2 separate regions of the Homo sapiens genome follow, and region 1 is linked to region 2. The links come from fine-mapping of genetic effects on gene expression. A gene starts in region 2. The other region holds a variant in brackets. All regions are shown on one strand. Distances are between the middles of the regions.

Region 1 (8,335 bases), 130 kb before region 2:
TTGTGTATCTACAGTTGCAGTTATGATAAGTTTACAGGAGAAACATCATATGACCACATCCTGTTACATGGACATTCTACCCATGAGATGGAATGGAAATAAAGTACTGAGATGAACAATAAGCTGTAACAATCAGCCTTGACAAGGAAATGCCACAGTCTGAGATTCCAATTCTGACAGGAATTGACTTTAAAAAAATCCACATAGAACCCCGACTTCTTTCCACCATATTACACTTTGTACTACAATCCCTGTTTTACAGAAAAGCCCATAAGGTAAGCATAGCACTCAATAAATATTGATTGAATAAATAAATATTGAACCTAATGAAGTTCTTAACATTCTACTAGCTTTTTAAAATAGCATTTTAGAAAATAACTTACCACTGGCCTGGTGGATAGAGATCCATTTGATCAGAAGTTAGGAGATTATCTTGACCTTCAGAAATGATGAACTGTTCTAAACTTTGATTTCTCTTTTAATAAAAAGTTAACATTCTTTTCCATCAAATCACATATTAGAGAGTATTATTTAAGTGAGGTCTGAAAAAAAATCTTGATTTTCTAACCAATGAAAGTAATACAAACTTATTTTACCAGGTTAAACAATGCAGAAATGCATAAATTATGCAAAATGTGGTAGGACTCTTACCTAAGTCAGTGCCAGTCTTCAGAGGTAGCCGTGGTTAACAGTGCAAAGTATAACCTTTCAGTAGCACTTTTTTCTGTGCACTTCTAAATGTACAGAGTTGGGGTTTTTTTTTTTTGTTGTTGTTGTTGTTTTGGAAACAGGGTCTTACTCTGCAGCCCATGCTTGAGTCCAGTGGTGAGATCACAGCTCACTGAAGCCTCAAATTCTGTGGGCTCAAGTGATCCTCCCACCTCAGCCTCCCGAGTAGCTAGGACCACAGGTGTGTGCCACCGTGCCTGGCTATTGTTTAAACTTTTTGTGGAGATGGGGTTTCGTCATGTTGCCCAGGCTGATCTCAAACTCCTGGCCTCAAGAGATCCACCCACCTTAGCGTCCCGAAGTCCTGGGATTACAGGCATGATCCACTGTGCCAGGTGAGATTTTTTTCATTAAGCAAAACATGTATCATATGATAAATATTATTTTTCAATTTGCTATTTTTCTTAGTGAGATTTTTACATTCATGTGCTAGAACAGTGTCTAGGCCAGCCTTCAAAGAAGAGGATGTCTTTTGCTCATTAATCCATTCAACAAACATTTACTGAGTCTTTACTGTATACCTGGCACTGTTCTGGGTGTTAGGAGGCAGCAGAAAAGGAGTCCCTGCCTACACGGCTGACTTCCCTGCCTCGGTACTCAGTGTCTCATTGTGAGTGTCTGTCGCCTACCTCTTGAACCTTTGGGGAATGCACATTTTAGTTACTGGCTGAAACATCTGATTGCAAATCTTCCATGGGAGTAGTTTACACTAAATTCTAAAATTTAGTTAAATAAATATATTACCTAATAGGGCTTTACTACATATGTTTTTGAAACCAAAAGATGTTCTTATCTTTGAGTTTAGACTAGAATATATCTTGTTTCCTGTTGCTTTGTTTGAATATCATTGATATGTGAATACAATATAGATGTAGTTCTTTAATGTCTAGTGAAGGGATTTGTAATCTCCATTGTACCACCAAGTTATCCCTAAATCATACCACCAACCACCAGAAAAATCATGCCTTGGCAGGAAGGGAGCCTGTTCTCAAACACTGCGGAGAAACTGTTGTCCTGGCTTGGATAGTATTCTGGAATAAGGGTCATCTTCAAATGGACTGTCTTAGAGTAAAATAAGAAATGCCTCTGGATCTTCTTTTTTCATATTTTTTCCATGCCAAGGGTTTATACACACATGCACACACTTAAGTCCTTTATTGCCTAGAATCTTAGCTCCCAGAGCCCTGGAATCAATGGCAATCACTGCTCAGGCCCCAGTAGCTTCCTCTTAGGAGTAAATTCAAATTCTGTACTAAAAGAAATATCCGGGAGGCTATTTCTTAATGCTATCTTCCTCCCTCACACCTGATTGGTTATGACAAAGAGGCTGAGCCTCAGTCCCTCCCCTGAGGCTGCTGGCCTGGTTAATCTGTCCTCCAGGTCTCCCATGGGCACCTAGAGTTAAGCGACCAGCTGTACTGTACAAAGATTCTATTGAGGCTCAGCTCCAGTAACTTGCTGGCTTTGTCAGGGTAGCATTTACAACTGCGTGCTGACCTTGCTTGGCCCACAGTAGACTGTGTGGGCATTTGTACAGCCCCATGTGGGAACATCTCTGTCTAATTCTCAACCTTGGGCAAGAACTTTTCAGGTTCTGGCAGCCAAAATGAACTGCTTGGAAGACAAAGAAGCATTTGCTGGGGTCTGAAAATGAACCTCTCCTAGGTGAATCAAGGCAGTTTCTAGAGCCTGGTAGGGCTAGGCTGAGGTTGGGAGAGCTGCCTGTGGGAAGAAGCAGCCCCATATGAGCCCCAAGCATCCCTGCACGCCCCTGCTGAGAGTGCCAAACTGCAAGACCTAGCAGCCTTCTCACCCTGAGCCTTTATTGCAATTAGTCATGTGGACCATTAAGCAGGTCAAGGTGACCATAGCAAGACTGCTGTGCTGAACACTCACTCCCCGGTGGAGGGCAATTGAGTTGTTCACTGCATGATGTAAAAGGTGCTGAGTTCTTGGCCCTGGATTCCTTAGCTGTGGCATAATCCACTGTGTGCATGGTTGCCCTCTGTGCCTATCATGTCTCCTGTGGAACTTGGGGATAGGGAATCACCTCTATTACTGATGTTCCTCCAGTTTGCTGTGTTGTGGATAATAAACTGACTTGAGTCTCACTATCTACTTTGGATACCTATGGAATCGTAGCAAGCCAACCTGCTGGCTTGCTGTACTAGTAGTACCCTATTGCTTCTGTAACAAATTACCACGAACTTAGTGGCTTAAACAACACAAATTTATTTTATAGTTCTGGAGGACAGAAGTCTGAAATGAATCTAAAATGCAGGTGTTTCAAAGAAATGGTAAGCGTTTATTACCAGGAGATGTGTTTATTGCTAGGAGACATGTTGATTACTCTGATTTGATCATTACACATGGTATATATACATGGATAGAAATATCCCTCTGTATTCAGTAAATATGCACAATTATTACATGTCAACTGAAAATAAAAGAAAAAGAAGAAAAATAAATAAATAAATAAAATCAAGGTTTTGGTTGGCAGGCCTATATTCTCCAGAGAAGAATCTGGAATTTTTCAGCTTCTAGAAGCTGTCAGCATTCCTTGGCTCATGGCCCTTTCCTCCATCTTCAAAGTGCATAACCACAACCTCTTCTTTCATCATCCCATCTCATCTTTCTTTGTTTAATCTTGCCTTCCTCTGCCTTGTGCTTACATTGAATTCACCTCATCATCTCAAGATCCTTAATCACAGCTACAAAGCCCCGTTTGAGTACATAATCACAAACTCTGGGATTAGGACAAGAACATCTTTCAGGGGTCATTATGCAGCCTGCCACACTTGCTTAGTCACATTCTTTGGGCTCTTGTCACTTCTTGCCATCCTCTATGATGTCACTTTTTGCCTGATACTCCAGAACCCAGTGCTAATAGCAGAACACCCTTTAGCTCATAGTAGGACAGAGCAGAGCAATCTGTCT[C/G]TTTTGATTTGACCTGATGGTCTGGTAAGAGGGTACAATTTGCTACTCCTAGGCCAAACTCAGAGGTCTAGCACCTCTAGAATGAAGCTCCATGAAGCCAGAGACTCTTGCCTGATTTATTTATCAGTAAGCTCCAATGCCTAAAACTGTGCCTTCTGGAACATAATAGGTGCTTAATAAATATTTGTTGAATGAACACATTTATTCAGCTTGCTTGTTGCTGGCTGCCCACTTCTACTCAGACATGAATTTTTTAAATTACTCGTGATAGGAAACCCTTTATCTACGTAATAGATTTACTTTCTCCATCTTGAGTCTCAAAATTAGATGCCTGATGGTGCCTTTATCAAAATAAGGAGTATGGGAGAAGGAGCGGTTTTCAGAGGGAAGATACTTTCTGTTCTGTACATACTAAGTTTGAAGTGCTGACGAGTCAACCAGGCTGCGATGTCATGCAGGAAGTTGGAAATGTGGTAGCGAAAAAATGGCAAGGTTGGAAATACAAATTTAGGATTCAACCACACGAAAAATATAGATGAAGTCACAAGATTGATTAAAATGTCAAGGGAGAGGATGTGGAGAGAAAAGAGAAGAGCTCATTTGGTTAATTCTGCAGCATCTAAAATTAGCATGGGTGCCAACAACATATTTTGGTAATAGTCATACATATTAATGATCATGCCCACTGACACATATATTTTTAGATTCAAAGGTTCTAGTAAGAACATATTTCTTACCTGTGACACCCTATTTCCTGTCCTCTCCTAGCCTCAAGCCCCTCTTCCAGGATTGAGGTTTCTTGTATTTACTCACCCACTTTTATTTAAAAAAAAAAGCAAACCTCTCCTAAGGTTTCTGTCCCACCTGTGGGGCCCCTGAGCCATGGTCCAGCAGTTTTCTTCTCCCTGTACACCCTCCACATTTGCCACCAGACCTTTCATACCACAGAGCTTGAAGCACCTGAACATGGGATTGATGGGCTCAGGCAGCTTCTGCATGGTAGTGCCTGCTTGAATTTATTGCCACCACCACCAGTCCCAACCAGACACCAGGATCTGAACTGCGTTGGACACCCAGTCCAGATTTCTATCTGAAAATCTTTTGCTATGGTCTTTTAATTGCAGGTTTTATGGAGACAAAAAGAAATGGCTGACTTTAGCCTCATGATGAGAATGGTGTTATGTATGGTTAACTTGAGCATATTGTAAGCAGTGATAGAGTTTCTGCTATCTGCTCATAATTCCCTCTTCTCCTCAAAAAAAAAGTAGTGAAAACTCATAGCCAGTGTGGGAGCCAGCTTTCAAGATGGCCTCTGGTGGTGTTCACCTGCTGGTCTTCACAACTGTTGTATGCTTCCCTTCCATGTTATAATAGATTGATTCTGTACGGCCAATAGAATATGGCAGAAGTGTTGGTATGTCACTTTCAAGATTTAATTATAAAAGGTACAGATATATTAACCTATTAACCTATAAGTAGAGCAATCTATCTCTCTAATCACTCATTCTGGGAGAAGCCATCAGCCATATTGTGAGCTGCTCTGTGGAGAGGCCCAGATGGTAAGGAACTGAGGCCTCCTGCCAACAGCCATGTGAGTTCGTCATCTAAGAAGTGGCTCCTCCAAGCCTCAGCCAAGCCTTCAGATGACTGCAGCCCCAGCCAATATCTTCACTGAAACCTTCCAAGAGACCCCAAGACAGAAGCACTAGCTAAACTGCTCCTGAATTTCTGACCTACAGAAACTGTGAGATAATAAATGTTTGTTATTTGAAACCATTCAGTTTTAATGGTAGTTTGTTATGCAGCAAGATAACCAATATAACCAGGAATGGGGATCACCCCACACTTATTCCTCCTCTGGATGTCCTAGCTCAGCTAAGCTTCTTCTTGGCCCTTTACCACTCTTGTCATCAGATGGTCTGCCCTGAGATGAGAACATCTTTGCACATGAACTTGCATAATCAGCCTTAACCTCAGTTCATAGGCTAAATTAAAAATTGTTAATAAAGATGTGGAAAAATAATTATTTTAACTGGTATCTAAAGAAAAGCAAATTAATACAAATATAAAATTCTATTTTTTATTTATCAAAATAGTAAGGTTTTAGAAAACATTGATACTTAATGGTGAAAAGGTGGTTCAATCCTTCTGAAATGTATTAAGAACATTCAAAAATTTTGATCTTTGATGCAGAGTTGATTATACTTCTAGGAATAGATCTGATGAAAGTAATGAGAAATGCAGATAGAAATTTATAGCTAAAGATATTCACTACAGCATTTACAGTAGCCAAACATTAGACACAACCTTTGGTCCAACAATAAGGGATTTGTTTTTAAAAAAAGTTATGGGCCGAGCACGGTGGCTCATGCCTGTAATCCCAGCACTTTGGGAGGCCAAGGCAGTTGGATCATGAGGTCAAGGGATCGAAACCATCATGGCCAACATGGTGAAATCCCGTCTGTTCCAAAAATACAAAAATTAGCCAGGCGTGGTGGTGCATGCCTGTAGTCCCAGCTACTCAGGAGGCTGAGGCAGAAGAATCACTTCAACCGTGAGGTGGAGGTTGCAGTGAGCTGAGATCACGCCACTGCACTCCAGCCTGGTGACAGAGTAAGACGCTGTCTAAAAAAAAAAAAAAAAAAAAAAAAGGTACATTTATTTTATTTGAAATTATGTAGCTACTGAAAACTAAGGTTATAAAGTTTTTTACTATGTGGAAAATGTTTCAGTAAAAATATAGGACACAATTATAAACGCAATATAGCCTTAGTTCTAGAAATGTAAATATGCATGAATCGAAAACTGGGGAAAAATGTGCTAAAATATTAGCATCAATTATTGTTTGAATAATCCTCCCCAGCAACGATTTGGAACAATTATTTTCTTCTCCATAGTCCTCAGAATTTTTAGAATTTTCACATTGGAGAGGTATTACTTTTAAATCAGAAAATAAAATGTTTAAAAATTGCATAGATGTAGGCAGTATAGCTTCTTAAAGTATCCAGTATTTGCCTTTGCCTTTTATCCATGAACCACAATGTTTTGGGTGATTCATGAATGATTCACATCAAAAGCCCTGGCCTATCTAAAATTTCATATTTCTTCTTGCTCTTTCAGGTAGGAGATTAATGAACATTCCAGAATGAGACTATGGCGTGGGAAGGAAGTGTGTAATGAACCCAGGAGGATGCCTAGGAGATGTGTCCATTGTAGCATTCTAGGTGTGACCACAAAGTGCCCAGCATGTGGCATTCTGAAGAAGGCCCTATGAGCTCAGCATTCTATTTCCTTTACTCAGAATGGAAGCAGGAAGATAGAATTCAATTGCAAAATGTTGGTCACTGACTCTGAAAAGGATTCAAATTACTGACAGCTTAAAGTAATCAATGCTATGAAAGCCATAATTATCCCAATACTGCAAAGATTTGGAGGTTTAACAACAACAACAACAACAAAAACCAGTTCTCCCAATCTGTGTCTTTCTGTCTGCATCTCTGTGGTTACATAACTAGAAAAGGGCCGGTTCAGGAATGAATCCCAGATGGCTCCGCTCAGTGTTTGCTTTGAAGTCGGTTCAATTCGATTTATCTGGTCTGTGGTTTGAGGATAGGGTGGAAGGATCCAACTACACAACAGTGCCCAGACCCCAGAGTAGGGACAGAACATCTGCTTCCTGGGCACAAGTGCATGAGGAAAGGATTTACCCTTCAAGGGTGTTGATTCTGATCCTGGCTACATGGGGGAGAGGGGTGTGGGGTGTTGCTTCCTGGCCTGCTCAGCCTGGGGTCTCGGGGGCTGCTTCTCACCCTGCTGTGTGAAAGCCATGGCTGTAAGTCCCAGCCAAGCTTGGCCCCACGGGTCTCCTACACCCAGGAAGGTGTCAGACCATCTCAGCTGGGTAAGGTCAAGTGGGGCCCCGGGGTTCCGCCCTTCATTGTGGGTCTTGGTATTTATAGCTTCTCGCTCTGTTCATTTTCTCTCAGGTGGTTAATTATATCATTTCTCTCTCCAGTTTTCTGAAAGGAATAATTGACTCAAGAGGCTGGCCTGTCAAATATTTGTGTAGGGCAGTGTGCAGTGACTGAGGAAGGCATGGAAAGTGAGACAGTGCCATTGAGAATGGCGGGACCACAGAAGGCCAGTGCCAGGAAGGCACTAATGTCATCTAGTTCCCAGGCTGCAGACCCAGATGGCTACAGGGACAGAGCAGGTTCCCTAAAGGCGGGAACTGGGCTGGTATTGAGCAGAGGGACTGTAGGTCGGAGAGTGCGCACCCTTCCTAAAGATATGCAAATAAAAATGTTAATAATAATTTGTAGCCCAAAGAAAACACAATTGCAGGTTGGATTTGGCCCAAGGGTCAGCATTTGGACATTCTTGGGTGGTCCTGCACCTTCAATGTACAGACAATAAACAGGTCCAGGGACCTATCCAGTTGATGACTAGCCGAGCCTAGAACACTAGTCTTCCAGCTCCCTGGCCAGGGGACCTTCTGGTCTAGATCTCTGCTGACAAACTGACGCTGTGACAGCCCCTCCACCCTGCACCCCATAATGACAGTTTGACAGAAAAAGAAAAAGCACTCTGTCAACCCCTACTTATTTCAGGAAATGGCCAGCTACAGAAAAATGTCCACCCCTAACATGAAATGTCCCATACTGCTCGC
Region 2 (8,335 bases):
ATAATGCAGATTTCATTAACTTGGTAAGTTAAATCTGCGAATCTTCAGATATATACCTGTCCAGACATTTTAAAGAAATTGAATATTTAATCTCTGCTGCAAACACTAATGTTAGACATTTAAATTATGTGTTACATATGCCTAGGTTTTATTTGGAGCGCACAACATTGTAGTAATCAAAACTAGTGCCTCACTTTTTTTCAAAGAACTAGAAATTTCATGTAATAATTAAAAGACATTAAAAATTGAAAAAGATAAACCTAAATCACCTAAATTCAATAAATTAGTTCAATGAACACCTGATACATTTTCATTTTTTATTCTTTAAAGCATCCCAAAGTTGAAGGTTTATCTTAAATACCCTAAATTATTCACTTAAGCTAGAATTTCAATAAATTGGCCTTTTAAGAGAAAAACCTCTTTATACAATTACTCGCATTCCTTCCATCTGCAACATAGTAGCTGTAAATACTGGTACTTTTAAATATGATTTATTTCATATATGCAAATATGTCCTTATTTACGGCTTTGAAGCTCCTTAACTGATTATGATCTCTACTAATTTTTCCTATTAGAATTTTAAAACTAGACTGCCTCTTTGTTTCACTTCCATTACAACATATTATGTTGACAGTTTCTGCAGATATAATATTGTCGTGAACTGAGTGGAAATTAAATGAGGAAGGAAGCTCAAAAATGAAATGCAAAGTTCCTATAAAATTATCTTTGGGTACCTGTGGCTTTAATTTTAACATACTTCAATGCGCTTTAAAATGGCATAGAGTCAGATCTGAAAATGTATACCAAAGTAACTTATTTTATTTGTAGTCATTTAAAAATAATTTCTGATCTCCTACCATGGTTTTCACTTAGGAAGTTCAAGTGAAAAATCATGGCATGATGCTGTTGTTAAATTCTCTCTGAAAGTATTTAAGTCTGTTCTATATTGAGTTCCTGCTTACCCCACATAGAAAGTTTTTTTAAGTAGAAAAGAAAAACTAAGAAGGGGACAACTGAAGCCAATCATTTTGGTGAATTTTCTTTGAAAATTAAGCATTTTTATTTCTGAAAAAGTGTAAAAATCTTACATTTAGAATAGTACAATAATAATTGCCAGTAAAATTTACAATACTCCTTGTAAAGAATACGCAGTAAGTACAAAAAAATCCACACGTCTGTTATGATACAAAACACAGGTTGAAATAAATGATAATTTTGACTTTTTTTCTTGTGTAAACATGTTAACCATTTTTCCTTTTCATGAAAAAGTACACCAGACAAGTGTCCTCAAATAAAAAAGAATTGCTTCGCTGGCATTCTTCAAGACCTTTACTATTTTTGTATTATTCTTTTGACCATTATTTTTTAACGCCTGGACCTGAGAATCTCTACACCTCAAAAAGGCTTAGTTGTTTTTCATCTGCCAAACGTCAAGGGAGCCTCTAGTGCCTGGACAGGGCGGACTCCCTTCCCCGGCACCCTCTTCCTCCCTACCCCAGGTCGGGGGTTGGGGGGCTGTAGCATAGGTCGGCTTTGCATAAATAGAGGGACCCGCAGAGCCAAAAGGCGCGCCCGGGCTGTTGACAGTTTTGTCCGAGAATTCGCAGCGGCGAAAATGGGCGCGCGAGGTCGAGAGGGGCCGCGCCTGGAGGAGCGAACAAAACACCGAACCACCAAGACGAGAAAAGGAGCCGGGATTCCTACCTTCTTCCTCGAGCGCGCTAACATAGCGTTATTAACAATTGGAAATCCTAGCAGTAAAGTTCTCGACACTGGACAGGGCAGTCCCTTGGTGCAGAGTCCCCAAGGCGGCGGACGAGGAGACTGAGGAGGCGGCGGCGGCCGCGGCGGCCACGAGGGATCGGGTGAGCGCGGCCGCCGGGCCCACGGCCGCCTGCGCCGCGCAGCCTCCTCCGCTGGATCCGGGAGCTGGCGGCGCCGCCACCGGCGAGGGCGAGGGCGAGGCCTGAGCGGCGGCGGCGGCCTGCGCGGCGGCGGCGGCAGCGGCGGCCGGGCCCAAGCTGCCCCCGATGATGCTCTCGATGGAGAAGGGCGAGCGCGCCAGCGCTGAGGCGCCCGGGCCGCCCGCCTTGGCCGCGGAGGCCGGCAGGGGGCCGGGTAGGGCGGCGCCGAGCGGGTGCGGCCGGTAGCCGAAGGCGGTCCGGGCCAGCTCGGCGGCCGCGCCGTGCGGTGGCGGGGGCGGCGGGGGCGAGTGCGGGTGGAAGGCGGCGGCGGCGGCGGCGGCCGCTGCGGCGGCGAAGAGGGCCGAGGGCGGCGCGTAAGGCGGCAGCTGCAGGCCGTAGCCGCAGCCGTAGGGGCCGTAGCCGTAGGCATGCGGGGGCGGCGGGGGCGCGGGCGGGAAGAGCGCGGCGGCGGCTGCCGGGTCGCCCGCGCCCCCTGCGGCTCCCGCGCCGCGCAGCAGCAGAGACTCGGCGGCCGCGGCGTTGGGTGGGAGCAGCGGCTGCCGCTTGAAGCGCTTCCTCCGGCGCAGGAAGCTGCCGTTGTCGAACATGTCGGCGGACTCCGGGTCCAGCGTCCAGTAGTTGCCCTTGCCCGGGTTGCCGGGCTCGCGGGGGATCTTGACGAAGCAGTCGTTGAGCGAGAGGTTGTGGCGGATGCTGTTCTGCCAGGCGGGGAACTTCTCCCGGTAGTAGGGGAAGCGGCCGCTGATGAACTCACAGATCTCGCTCAGCGTCAGCCGCTTCTTGGGGCTCTGCAGGATGGCCATAGTGATGAGCGCGATATACGAGTAGGGCGGCTTCACCAGCGGGTTCTTGGCGCCGCTACCCGCGCTCCCGCCGCCGCCCGCGCCGCCGCCGCCGCCGCCCCCACCGGCTCCTGCCCCCGCCGCCGGGGCCGGGCCCGGGGGCGCCGGGGAGCCCCCAGCAGGCGGGGCCAGCAGGATGTCATCGTCGTCCTCCTCCTCCTCCAGATCCTCCAGCTCGTCCTCCCCGGCGTACGAGCGCCGCCGCCGCCGCCGCTGCGCGGGGACAGCCAGCCGGGGCCCGCCACCGCCGCCCTCGTCGTCGTCCTCCTCTTCCTCGTCTTCTTCGTCCTCGCCCTCCCCCACCACGTCGATGTCTGTTTCCTCGGCGAGGCCAGAGGCATCGGACATCTCAGTGCTCAGGGTCATAGCTGTGGCGCGGCGGCGGCGGGGCGGCGCATGGGGGCGCCGGGCTCCGGGCTCCCTCTGCGCCCCAGCCCGGGTCCCGGGCGGCAGGCCCGGCCGGGGGGCGCCACGCTGGGGGCGCTGCGACTGCGGCTGCCGGAGCTGCGCCGGGGCTGCCGGGTGGCGGCGGAGTCTCGCGCGCCGACTTTATAACTCCTGCGCCGCCGCGGTAGCCGCGCGGATGCTGCGCTCCCTGGGCTCCGCTCGCGCCCGGCCCGGGCGGAGGACTTGACCTTCTCCTCTCGGAGCAGCTTTTGCCCCGTCAGCTGAGGAGGGGGTGGCGGGGCCCGGGCGGGCGAATCAGAACGCCAGGCGCCCAGGAACGTGCGGGACGGGTGAGAGTCTAAGAACAGAGCTCGGCGAGGCCAGGGCTGAGTCCAGGAGAGGGCGGACCTTCCTCGGCTTATAGCAGAAGGGGGCCTGTCACATGGTGTGCACGTCAGAGCGCTGCCGAGGGAAGGAAAGCAAGCCTAGGAAATCAGCCCTTCTCGGGAGAGAAAATTCACCCGTAGGAGGGAGGCAGCAGCTGAGAAGAGTGGGGAGGAGAGGGGACCTCACTATTTCTTGCCAAAGAGGCTGATGCCCGAATTACGCGGCTGTCTGCACCGAGGGCCGCTGCACGAGTTAGACTTCCCAGCCTCCTCAATTAGTCCTCCACCCTAACCTCAGAAGCACACCCGCGACACTCTGGTTTGACCCCTCGACAGCCTGTAGGAGCCTTCCAGCCGGGGGATAACCACCCCATCCTCTGAGGTGGCCCCTGGGGGACGCTCTGGGGTCGGTTGGGGGTGTCCAGCCCCTCCAGATCGGGCGAGCGGCCCCCCATTGGATCTGATGCGAAGCCCCCCAATTTAAGCACGATAATAATTGTTTATTGACCCTTTAACCCATTCTCTTCGGTTTTACTCCAAAGACGTTTGTTTTCCGCCATCTGTTAATAAAAACGCTGTGAGACTGGCGTTTTACTCACTTCTCTGCGATTGAATGCCCTAGAGACTTGACAGTTAAACTAAGCCACTCTAATGAGACGATCTGACAAATGTCATGGGAATAAAGAACGTAATAATTGAATTCGGAGAAGAAATTGAAATTTTTAGTGAAAACCCAAATACACGCACAAAAATTGCACCTAGAAACTACTAAAAAGTTCGACCAGCCTGGCCAACATGGTGAAACCCCGTCTCTACTAAAAATAGAAAAAAATTAGTAGGCGGCGCCTGTAATCCCAGCTACTCGGGAGGCCGAGGCAGGAGAATCGCTTGGACCCGGGATGCGGAGGTTGCAGTGAGCCGAGATCGTGCCACTGCACTCCAGCCTGGGCAACAAGAGCGAAACTCCGCCTCAAAAAAAAAAAAAAAAAACAGAAGTTCGTTCATAATGGGGCTATATAGTTCTCAGTAGGAGGAACATTCTAGTCAGCACTTTGCATAGTAATCTCAAAATACTTAAATTACATAACATATACATATTTCTACTGAGGCTTATTAATAGAAACTATAATGATAGATGACTTTAAGATAAACTTTTTAAAAATGTGTTTTTGGAAAATCCTTAAATATTGTTAATCCTTTCTGGTGAGATGAAAATTTTTTTTATGAGATTAAAGTTCCGCTCAATTCAGTTTTCTTTTCGGGTGACAAGATAGTGGAAATAATTAAGATATGATGCTCTTTTAAATATACCTATCTTTATCACCAACTCAAACGAGCTATTTTGGCTAGTGGAAAAATCCTAATAGTTTGTTGAATTCACATTCACTTATTTGTGCATTTCCTAAAATGCTTCTATTTCAAAGAGGGGAGCTTGTCCCAAAAGTTTAACTTTCTGATTAAAATGACCCCTTGACAAGAACTAAGAATCAAAATTCAATGGCGTTCTGTAGGAACAGCCATCAGCTGCCCTTGTGTATATCATTTTATCGACCAAGTACTTTTCACATTCTGAAACGTGTCATTACTACCGCTGTCAATCACAGAGCCTCAGAAATAAACTGTTTCCCCATCTAAAGACCTCTATTAAAATCGAGTTTTTGTTGCTGAGGACTGCTACCACCAGTTACTCTTACAAGTGACCCATAAAGGCTATCATAGGTCTTTGAACAATCTATGAGAAAGCCTCGACGTTCTAAATAAATTATTTTTCATTAACTCTTGTTTGATATATGGGTGAACAATTTAATTACTGTAATAGGCTGAGCATTAACCTGAGCCAACATTAATCAGCACTATTAATCAGGCATCACATTGCTTTGTTGATGCAGCCAGGAGTCCTTACCAAGGAGTTCACTTTTACATTGGAAAGTTTAAGTTTTATAAGTACTCAGTCGATATCTAAATAAACACCATGACTTTCGCAGCACTGAGGGTTGGTGTGTGGCGAAGTTATTCAAAGATGAAACAGAGAGGAAGAATTTGTTCGCAGACCATTAATGACTTTAGATGACCGGTTACAGCCATCATTCCGTTCATGGCGCGGGAGATAGACTGCGTTCGTTTGTAACTTTGTCCGCAAGTTCTTCCCCCAAAGGGTTAAGAGGCTCTTCCCTGGAAACGTTTGCAGAATGTGGCGAATTATCTCCTGGCCACTCCGGGGAAAGTTTTAGGACTTACTGAAGGTCAGAGTGGAAGATCAGCCCAGAGGGACCGCTGCAGAGACGGAGAAGTGTCACTAAGATTTAGGCGAGCTTTACTGAAGCCCCACATGTGGATGTGACCACTTGTTTTGTTTGCTTAGTTAAGCTACATGTTTGTATGCAACCTTTAGCTCCGCAGTCGCGAAATTCCCCGAGCGCGGAAACTCAAGCGATTCACGTCTTGCGCGACCCCCTTGTCTCCCCCATCGTCCCCTACCCCGGGCCTCCTTCTCTACAGCGCTCCCAGCTTTCGGCCCCAGCTGGTAACTCTCCCCCGGCTCCCCGCCCCCAAGCTGGTACAAGGGACCAAAACCTTTCCCAGAGGCGAGCCGGGGAAGCGACGCGAAGACCCCCGTCCGGCGCAACCCGCTCGCGTGGACGCGGAAAGTGGCGGGCGGCGGGTCCCGGTGGTGCCTGCGTAGGGCAGAGTTGCCCCCTGGCGGCGGTGCGACGACCTGCGGGCCCTCGCGCCCGGGCCGGCAACTCCCTGGGAGCTCGGCCCGCGCGGGGAACTCGCCCAGCAGCCTGTGTTTCTCGAGTGTGGGCAGCCGGCTCCCGGGCGTCCCTCCCACCGGCTGCGGGGGCCCGGGACTGGGCGGTAGTGGAGGCAGGTCCTTGGACTGCAGGCTGAGGCTTTTTCCCCCCACGAGCGGTTTGGGCCCTCCAGGAGCCCCTGCGCGGGGGTCACGTGGATTACGCTAGGTGAGAGCCGGAGAGGCTGCGCCACCGTCGGGAGGCTCCCTGCCTCCGCCCTTTGTCCTTTGCCCCTGACCATGAGCGCCCCAAGCCCAGGGACCTCCTTAGGGGGATGAAGGCTGGAAGAGACCTGGGGGCTCAGACTTACGGGGAAGGAACCTAGGCTATTCCTTGTGCATCCCAGGATTTTACCCATGAACGTGAACATGAACGTGTTTTCAACCCCAGCGGTTCCCCTGGCGCCTCGACCCTCCTTTGAAGAGTCATTCTAGAAGGCTGTATTGCGATAGTGTTTGTACCTGTCACTGTGAGCCCTGAAAAGAGACAGAAGAAAACGCGAGTGCCTGGCCTGAGGGTGCTCCGTCCCGTGGGTAGCCAGGTAGGTAGTTATTCTGCCCGATGATGAGGTCCTCCTGACGCCCCCGCGAAAGGGAGGGATGCCGGGAGTCGCTGCCCCAGGGCCCATTTAGCCTTCGCTGTCCTTCCTTGGGGCTACAGGCATTTCCATTCCTGTTAAAATCAAGAGTGTGGGGGCCAAAACCTGGGCTCTGAGTTGTTTATTGTTTACTAGGGTAGTAGGGGAAGGGGCGAGTAGGGTTGTAAAATATACGTAATTTACCATTTTAATCATCTTAAGTGTATAGTTTAGAGGCATTAAGTACATTAACATTGTTGTGCAACTATTACCACTATCCATTTCCAGAACTTTTCCATCATCCGAAACTGAAATTTTGTACGCGTTAAAAAGTAACTCCCCATTTCCCCAACCATCTTTCTACTCCCCCCAACCTTTCGCCAGCCCCTGGCAACTACTATTCTACTTTCTGTCTCTATGAATGTATCTACTCTAGGTACATCATCTGAGTGGAATCATAATCACATTTGTCCATTGTGTCTGACTTATTTCTCTTAGCATAATGTCTTTAAGGGTCGTCCTTGTGGAAGCATGTATCAGAATATCTTCTTTTTTACGGCTGAATAATGTTCCATTGAATGTATATGCCACATTTTGTTTATCCATCCATCCATTGGTGGACATTTGGGTTGCTTCTCTTTTTCTGTTAGTTTTTGAACCTCCACTCACTTAGTTCTTTGTCTATTCTGCATGCAGTAGACACTGATAAAATGTTTGATATATTCATTTTCCTCTATCTTTTTCACCCCAGAAGCCCTCAAAGGAAGCCCATTGTCTTAACAGAGCATACACATTGGGGAAGTGAGGGGGGACGGTTTCTGCTGACAGAACAACATAAGGGGGATTCGCCCTTCTGGATTTGAAACCTCAACTTGTTCACAATTTTGAGACTTTCAGGTTCAGACTCTGCACATCACCTTCAGTAAAAAGGCATAAGTCGGGACTCCTCCAGAATTATTTCTGGACAAATTTGTGATCATCCCTACTCCCACCCCATGCTTTTACACCCTTAGTCCCCCTCCTTATCTGTCCTGATCCTTGGGAGCCCCAAGATGATCTAAAATTTTTCTCTGGCTGTCTAGGGCACTCCACTTCAGCATTCTCCTGTGGTGTAACATTACCTGCCACTCATGCTGGTTCCCATGCGCCAAGCTAATTTCAACAACGGGTGAAGTGGGTATCTCCATGTGATGGCTGAGGAGACAGATTCTGGGTGTTGCTACTAAGCCTCATGGAGGCAGCCATGACAGAGCAGAGCCTTCTGTCCTCCTGTTCCAGGTCAGCAGCCTCTCCCAAGGCAGGACTCCATGGGCCAGCCTCTTTCCTCCCCCACCCTGCTTCTTCAGGCCAGCTCTTATTTGGTCTGACAATAAGTCTGAGGTAAGCTGTTACTGGCTGACGGTGTTTGGTGCCTTTCCCAAGA

Which allele goes with the higher level. Alleles are on the strand shown, and positions count from the first base shown. SD is a standard deviation of normalised expression in the study named.
In carriers of allele G in region 1, the expression in fibroblasts of the gene that starts at base 3,548 in region 2 tends to be lower than with C alone (small effect, 0.37 SD a copy in GTEx).

What was found. PIP is the estimated chance that this variant, and not a neighbour inherited with it, causes the effect. A credible set is the group of variants that fine-mapping cannot tell apart.
Region 1: its variant is the best candidate, but not a certain one, in a credible set for the expression of FOXD1 in fibroblasts (GTEx, PIP 0.71).

Annotation. Positions count from the first base shown.
Region 1 is chr5:73,315,101-73,323,435 of GRCh38, forward strand. No RefSeq gene overlaps it. Among named protein-coding and RNA genes, the nearest start is that of LINC02230, 19 kb to the right of the region's middle. RefSeq lists enhancers at 6,308-7,507, 6,788-7,395. The variant C/G (reference allele first, on the strand shown) is at 3,667.
Region 2 is chr5:73,445,230-73,453,564 of GRCh38, forward strand. FOXD1 (forkhead box D1) reads right to left here and starts at 3,548. Exons shown (of 1, transcript NM_004472.3): 1 at 1,037-3,548. The coding sequence starts at 3,133. The coding sequence ends at 1,736. RefSeq lists an enhancer at 1-200 and a silencer at 6,148-6,357.